Homo sapiens: one gene and its partner. The protein of the gene in region 1 purifies or fractionates together with the protein of each later gene. This does not show direct contact. Each region holds a gene or a part of one and is shown in the gene's direction. Other genes may lie near its edges. The genes, in order: BMPR1B and PEG10.

The links.
Region 2: the proteins of BMPR1B (region 1) and PEG10 purify together in Homo sapiens (affinity purification with western blotting; one study listed by BioGRID). This does not show direct contact.

The regions. Positions count from the first base shown.
Region 1 is NC_000004.12:94,764,163-94,767,992, forward strand, and holds part of BMPR1B (bone morphogenetic protein receptor type-1B isoform b precursor), read left to right. Parts: intron 1-3,830. UniProt on the Homo sapiens protein: On ligand binding, forms a receptor complex consisting of two type II and two type I transmembrane serine/threonine kinases.
Region 2 is NC_000007.14:94,662,605-94,666,434, forward strand, and holds part of PEG10 (retrotransposon-derived protein PEG10), read left to right. Parts: intron 1-729; coding exon 730-1,930; coding exon of another isoform or gene 1,931-3,078; 3' UTR 3,079-3,830.

The DNA.
Region 1 (3,830 bases):
CCAGAACCACTCTCAGCCCTTCTACCTCATGCTGTCTGCAGGGAAAATAACCTGGATGAACAACTTTGACTTCCAAAAAACGTAGGTCACTGGGGAGCCACAGCAGAGAGTAGAGGGAGGGTGGGGAGTGAGGGTATTTATTTCCTTGGCTCCCTTTTTGTGAGATCAGTTTGGGCTGCCTGTATTCCTGCACTGAAAGTCATTGCTCTTCCCAAGGTATTCTTCTCTATATAACTCTTTCTTTCCAGATTCTGGTAATCTCGAATAACTTCCCTGCTTTTGCTAACCTGGATTTACTGCAATACCCTTGGGGTTCTTTTCCACTACTGCCCACACCCTGTTACATTGTCTGTTTATAAATAAATTCCCTCAGCTTATCAGGAGCTGTGTCAATTAAAGTCCTATTTTCTGTTGATTCAGCTTCTGAAAGCCTGCTCTTTGGAGTCTTCTTGGATTGATAAGAACAGTCGTACTCCCTTACCTGTTTTGGACATCTGCTTTCCACCCCAAATTATATGCTTCTGTCCATGAAACCTAAATTCTTATATAAATACTGTCAATCAGTTTATTGGAACATCTCGTGACTTGATAGTCTGTATATCTTCTATCCATGTGCTTTGTTTCCTTCACTCTTTCACAAATGCAGTGCATCTTTATAGATTCACTGTTTAGGACCAGGCACTGTACTAGGCATTGTGGATACAAAAAGGTGGATGTTTGCCACTATTTGGGAGGACTGGGAAGGGGGCAGGAAATAAACAACTATACATAATAGTTACAATTTAGGTTTGTGATTAGGTTTATTTAAAAAAATAAACGGTGCAGCAGTAGAGAGTAACGGGGGGACTATCATTTACTGAAGATCACAAGCAACTGAAAGGCAGGGCATGTCTAAGTGGCTCTTGTTAACCTGCATATATTATTCAGGCTCTTAATATTTGAATATTAAAAGCTTTTCCCAATGATGACACAAACAATAAATCTTGGCAGGAAAATTAGAAATTTCATATAAACCTTAAGAAAATAAAGTGCTTTATACTATTACCTAAAATTAATAGTTTTGTATATATGTATGTGTGTGTGTATCCCTTAAGAATTTTCTTATGCATTACTATGTATTTTTAAATGAAAATAAGATCATCTGTATCATTTTGTGACTTTCGTTTTGAATTTAATCATGCATCAGTAACCCCATCTACATCAATGTATGCATTCTGAAACATATTTAATGTGTAATCTGATAGTTAAAGATCACAGAGTTCCTCATCTCCCTGCTCGTTATATTTCGTAGACTATTTTAAAAGTTTGATAGACATGAAGAAGAAAAGTGGGCCAATAATCTTGCCACACAAAAACCTCTAGAAATTAAGAGGCACTTGAGAATATATCTGTTTGAATTGTGATGCCTAATAAAATTAAATGACAACAGAGAGGGGACATAATTTAATCAAATCTCTCGTTTAATAATTACATTCTAGAATTTTTTTGAGGTCTAACATAACTGTTATTTCTACTTTGTCACATAGTAAATGAAAAATTGGGGTTTGAGGTAATATGAGCTATTCGACTAATCCAGATAAGGAATTTGCATATAACAGTATGTTTTACCTGATTGCATTTGTTTTCCCAGTGTGTTTCATGGAACAGTGGTTTCGTGGAATGTTAGGTGTGCAGCCCAAGAGGGATCTTATGGATGGCAGCATAGCCTCCTGGTTAACTGTGGGAGTTTGTCTAGGTTTGAATCGTGGCTGTATCATTTCCGAGTTGTGAGACCTTGGGCAAGTTCCTGCACCTTCTGTGTTTTTGTTTCATCATCTGTAAAATGTCAATGACAATAATAGTATTTACATCATAGGGATGTTTGAGAATTAGAATTTTGATTTTTAAAGTGTTTAGAACAGTGATAGGTACATAGTAAACACAAGCGTTTGATAAGCAAGTAAATAATGAAATCTGGCAATTTCTGATGTTTTTAAATTGCAACCCTTTCTGAGCCTTTGTTGTATTAACATGCATTAATATTGACAGTCCCCAAAAGTGGTATTTGATCATGGGACTTGTATTTTTCCCTGTGTATATCATTGGATTTATGTTCCTCAGAACTATGGGAAAAAAATTGATACAAACAATTGGCTAAACATTTTCATCAGTTTATTATCTCCTGAAATGAAGGGATCATTCTTACTGCCAGGAGTTGTTCCTACAATTATCTCACCCATCATAGAACAGGAAACCGGCTCCTGTCTTTTTTTTTTTTTTTTTTAAACTCTTTTTCTTTTTAAAGATAAAAATGAATGCTTTCCTTCACTACCCAGAAAACGACTTCCAGCCCTATACCTGTGAGTATATACTGGGCCTCTGCAGGTCACTGAGCATGAGATTTACAGTGTATAATGTTTTCTAAAAAGTTACTTATTGTTATTTTTTTAATTGTAAAGAATGTTCATTGAAGTGAACTTGGGAAACATAGGGAACTCAAACAAATAAAATCAGTCACTCTTTTTTTAATTTTATTATTATTATTATTTTTTACCACACAGAAGTAGCCACCATTAGCATTTTGGGTCTTTTTTTCTTTACTGAATTGAGAGCATAATATACTGTGGTTTTGTGTCCTTCCTTTCTTTTTCACTTGACTTTATTTATATAATATTCTCAATCCAAGACATGCAGTGATTTCTGGCCTTCAGATGATTGGTAATCTACATTTCAAAAGAGCTTCCTTCCTTACCAAGTTCTGTGGCCAGAGACAATATGAAAATAAAATGGTGTATCTAGAATGAGTTTCTCCCTTATTTTAAGTATTCTCGGAAATTGGAACCACCTGGTAAGCAGTTGGCAATTCTGTTTAAAAGACCTGGAGTAGGTGACCTCAGGTTGCTTCATTTTTATGAGTCATTCCAGTCTTCTAGCCAGAAGCCAGATGGACTCAGAAGAACCCACGACCAGGCTGTTTTGGAGGCATTACTTACTCATCCTGAGTGACTGTGAATGAATTTATATAATGTTGAGATGAACGTGGAAAAATTATCCAGGGAAACCTAAATTATTCCAAAATAAATTTAGCTTAACTACTATTTAAATTTTAAATTGTAAATCTTTTCCCACCATTGCATGTTTGAGGTAGGATTCTAATGATGTACTAATATGTAGGAACAAACATTGTCTCTAAATATTTTATCTTGTCTTATAATTTTGAGTAGGAATTAATATTGAATTTATATGACAGGACATAATGTAAACAAACATGCTGTTTGTTAGGAGCTTTACTTTGTGTACTTCATACATAGTGGATGCTCTAGTGGTTAGAATAAATGTGTCAGTAAGTTGTTTTCATTCAAAAGTCCTTATTCAACAGCTTTGAATCTGCATCTCAAGATTAAATCAATCACTCCTTTAAATACTTATCGTTAACATCTGTAGCAAATGAAAATATTTAAACCCTCTCTGAAGAGAAAAACCATACTACACTGTTTAATTGAATTAAATTAGCTTTTCATGGTAACCTAGGAGCTATTTCTGGAACCAATTTGGAAAATGATCTTTGTATGCTGTGGCATTTATGTTTGATTATGTTTTTCTTAGTAATTCTCAATGGACCAGATTCACTCCTTGCTTCAGTCATCAAACTTTTGTGATTTTTGTAGGCAAATTATGTATTTCCTGCTCCATAATTATGCATATTTATGGATACTATATTCTTCCTCCTCAAATATAGAAGTTGTAAAAACTTCTTAATTCGATAACATAATAAAATTATTTAAATTTTATCATTTCACCATTCTGTGAAGTATGTTAAGACTGAGATAAACAGCCATATATAAATGAAC
Region 2 (3,830 bases), on another chromosome or scaffold:
GACTGCATAATGACAAAGGAAACTGACATACACATATTGCTGCTTAGTGCCATTTCTGTCCCATAGAGAATTTTCTTTGGGGATTTAAATTATGGTCAGAAAAGTAATTTAGGCAGTCCTGTGGTTTTTGTGGTGGTGGTTGTTTGATTTGATAACCAGTTACCTTCTCGGTGGCAGTGGAATAGGGTTGTGACAGTTGGCCAGAGTACCCTCCTGCCCACAGGGCTGATGAATACATGCATTGTGATTTTAATACTCCCTTCTTGCTTTAATGAGATTCTATTAGTTGCAGTATTAACTATTTTTGGCCTGGCTTCTTTAATAACAAAAGTTATTATTTTGGCTTTAATTTGCATAATTGATTTTGTATCCATGTTTGCCTTGAAGTTTCTTGCTGTGTTTGAATACAAAACTACTTGTTTAGAGGGTTTCAACATTCTTTTATAGTTTATAAAGGTAAGCATGCTGTTGATAATGTATTGTTGAATCATAATGAACAGGTGGCCTTTGAGGAAGACAAGGTCATTTGAACATCAAAAAGTACTTTGCTTTTTGTTATATATGGTGCTGATTACTAACTTTCTCTTGAGAGTTTATTTTCTTTGTTCACTAATTATTAATGTAAGCACGTAGAGCAAGGGATAATTTAAATACCAAATCCTTTGTGTCTGCTTTTGCTGCTTTGAATGTATAAGTTGGATTTATACATACATTTATCTTTATTTACAGAAATAAGCGGGTTTTGAAAACAAAAAAAAGAAGGAGTGGAAGAGGGGGCCAGGATCCAGGCCTCCATCCCCACAGAAGTGAAGCTACAGCTGGGAGGTCTCCTCCCACCCCAACCGTCACCCTGGGTCCCGACTGCCCACCTCCTCCTCCTCCCCCTCCCCCCAACAACAACAACAACAACAACTCCAAGCACACCGGCCATAAGAGTGCGTGTGTCCCCAACATGACCGAACGAAGAAGGGACGAGCTCTCTGAAGAGATCAACAACTTAAGAGAGAAGGTCATGAAGCAGTCGGAGGAGAACAACAACCTGCAGAGCCAGGTGCAGAAGCTCACAGAGGAGAACACCACCCTTCGAGAGCAAGTGGAACCCACCCCTGAGGATGAGGATGATGACATCGAGCTCCGCGGTGCTGCAGCAGCTGCTGCCCCACCCCCTCCAATAGAGGAAGAGTGCCCAGAAGACCTCCCAGAGAAGTTCGATGGCAACCCAGACATGCTGGCTCCTTTCATGGCCCAGTGCCAGATCTTCATGGAAAAGAGCACCAGGGATTTCTCAGTTGATCGTGTCCGTGTCTGCTTCGTGACAAGCATGATGACCGGCCGTGCTGCCCGTTGGGCCTCAGCAAAGCTGGAGCGCTCCCACTACCTGATGCACAACTACCCAGCTTTCATGATGGAAATGAAGCATGTCTTTGAAGACCCTCAGAGGCGAGAGGTTGCCAAACGCAAGATCAGACGCCTGCGCCAAGGCATGGGGTCTGTCATCGACTACTCCAATGCTTTCCAGATGATTGCCCAGGACCTGGATTGGAACGAGCCTGCGCTGATTGACCAGTACCACGAGGGCCTCAGCGACCACATTCAGGAGGAGCTCTCCCACCTCGAGGTCGCCAAGTCGCTGTCTGCTCTGATTGGGCAGTGCATTCACATTGAGAGAAGGCTGGCCAGGGCTGCTGCAGCTCGCAAGCCACGCTCGCCACCCCGGGCGCTGGTGTTGCCTCACATTGCAAGCCACCACCAGGTAGATCCAACCGAGCCGGTGGGAGGTGCCCGCATGCGCCTGACGCAGGAAGAAAAAGAAAGACGCAGAAAGCTGAACCTGTGCCTCTACTGTGGAACAGGAGGTCACTACGCTGACAATTGTCCTGCCAAGGCCTCAAAGTCTTCGCCGGCGGGAAACTCCCCGGCCCCGCTGTAGAGGGACCTTCAGCGACCGGGCCAGAAATAATAAGGTCCCCACAAGATGATGCCTCATCTCCACACTTGCAAGTGATGCTCCAGATTCATCTTCCGGGCAGACACACCCTGTTCGTCCGAGCCATGATCGATTCTGGTGCTTCTGGCAACTTCATTGATCACGAATATGTTGCTCAAAATGGAATTCCTCTAAGAATCAAGGACTGGCCAATACTTGTGGAAGCAATTGATGGGCGCCCCATAGCATCGGGCCCAGTTGTCCACGAAACTCACGACCTGATAGTTGACCTGGGAGATCACCGAGAGGTGCTGTCATTTGATGTGACTCAGTCTCCATTCTTCCCTGTCGTCCTAGGGGTTCGCTGGCTGAGCACACATGATCCCAATATCACATGGAGCACTCGATCTATCGTCTTTGATTCTGAATACTGCCGCTACCACTGCCGGATGTATTCTCCAATACCACCATCGCTCCCACCACCAGCACCACAACCGCCACTCTATTATCCAGTAGATGGATACAGAGTTTACCAACCAGTGAGGTATTACTATGTCCAGAATGTGTACACTCCAGTAGATGAGCACGTCTACCCAGATCACCGCCTGGTTGACCCTCACATAGAAATGATACCTGGAGCACACAGTATTCCCAGTGGACATGTGTATTCACTGTCCGAACCTGAAATGGCAGCTCTTCGAGATTTTGTGGCAAGAAATGTAAAAGATGGGCTAATTACTCCAACGATTGCACCTAATGGAGCCCAAGTTCTCCAGGTGAAGAGGGGGTGGAAACTGCAAGTTTCTTATGATTGCCGAGCTCCAAACAATTTTACTATCCAGAATCAGTATCCTCGCCTATCTATTCCAAATTTAGAAGACCAAGCACACCTGGCAACGTACACTGAATTCGTACCTCAAATACCTGGATACCAAACATACCCCACATATGCCGCGTACCCGACCTACCCAGTAGGATTCGCCTGGTACCCAGTGGGACGAGACGGACAAGGAAGATCACTATATGTACCTGTGATGATCACTTGGAATCCACACTGGTACCGCCAGCCTCCGGTACCACAGTACCCGCCGCCACAGCCGCCGCCTCCACCACCACCACCGCCGCCGCCTCCATCTTACAGTACCCTGTAAATACCTGTCATGTCCTTCAGGATCTCTGCCCTCAAAATTTATTCCTGTTCAGCTTCTCAATCAGTGACTGTGTGCTAAATTTTAGGCTACTGTATCTTCAGGCCACCTGAGGCACATCCTCTCTGAAACGGCTATGGAAGGTTAGGGCCACTCTGGACTGGCACACATCCTAAAGCACCAAAAGACCTTCAACATTTTCTGAGAGCAACAGAGTATTTGCCAATAAATGATCTCTCATTTTTCCACCTTGACTGCCAATCTAACTAAAATAATTAATAAGTTTACTTTCCAGCCAGTCCTGGAAGTCTGGGTTTTACCTGCCAAAACCTCCATCACCATCTAAATTATAGGCTGCCAAATTTGCTGTTTAACATTTACAGAGAAGCTGATACAAACGCAGGAAATGCTGATTTCTTTATGGAGGGGGAGACGAGGAGGAGGAGGACATGACTTTTCTTGCGGTTTCGGTACCCTCTTTTTAAATCACTGGAGGACTGAGGCCTTATTAAGGAAGCCAAAATTATCGGTGCAGTGTGGAAAGGCTTCCGTGATCCTCTCGCTGCACCCTTAGAAACTTCACCGTCTTCAAACTCCATTTCCATGGTTCTGTTAATTCTCAAGGAGCAGCAACTCGACTGGTTCTCCCAGGAGCAGGAAAAACCCTTGTGACATGAAACATCTCAGGCCTGAAAAGAAAGTGCTCTCTCAGATGGACTCTTGCATGTTAAGACTATGTCTTCACATCATGGTGC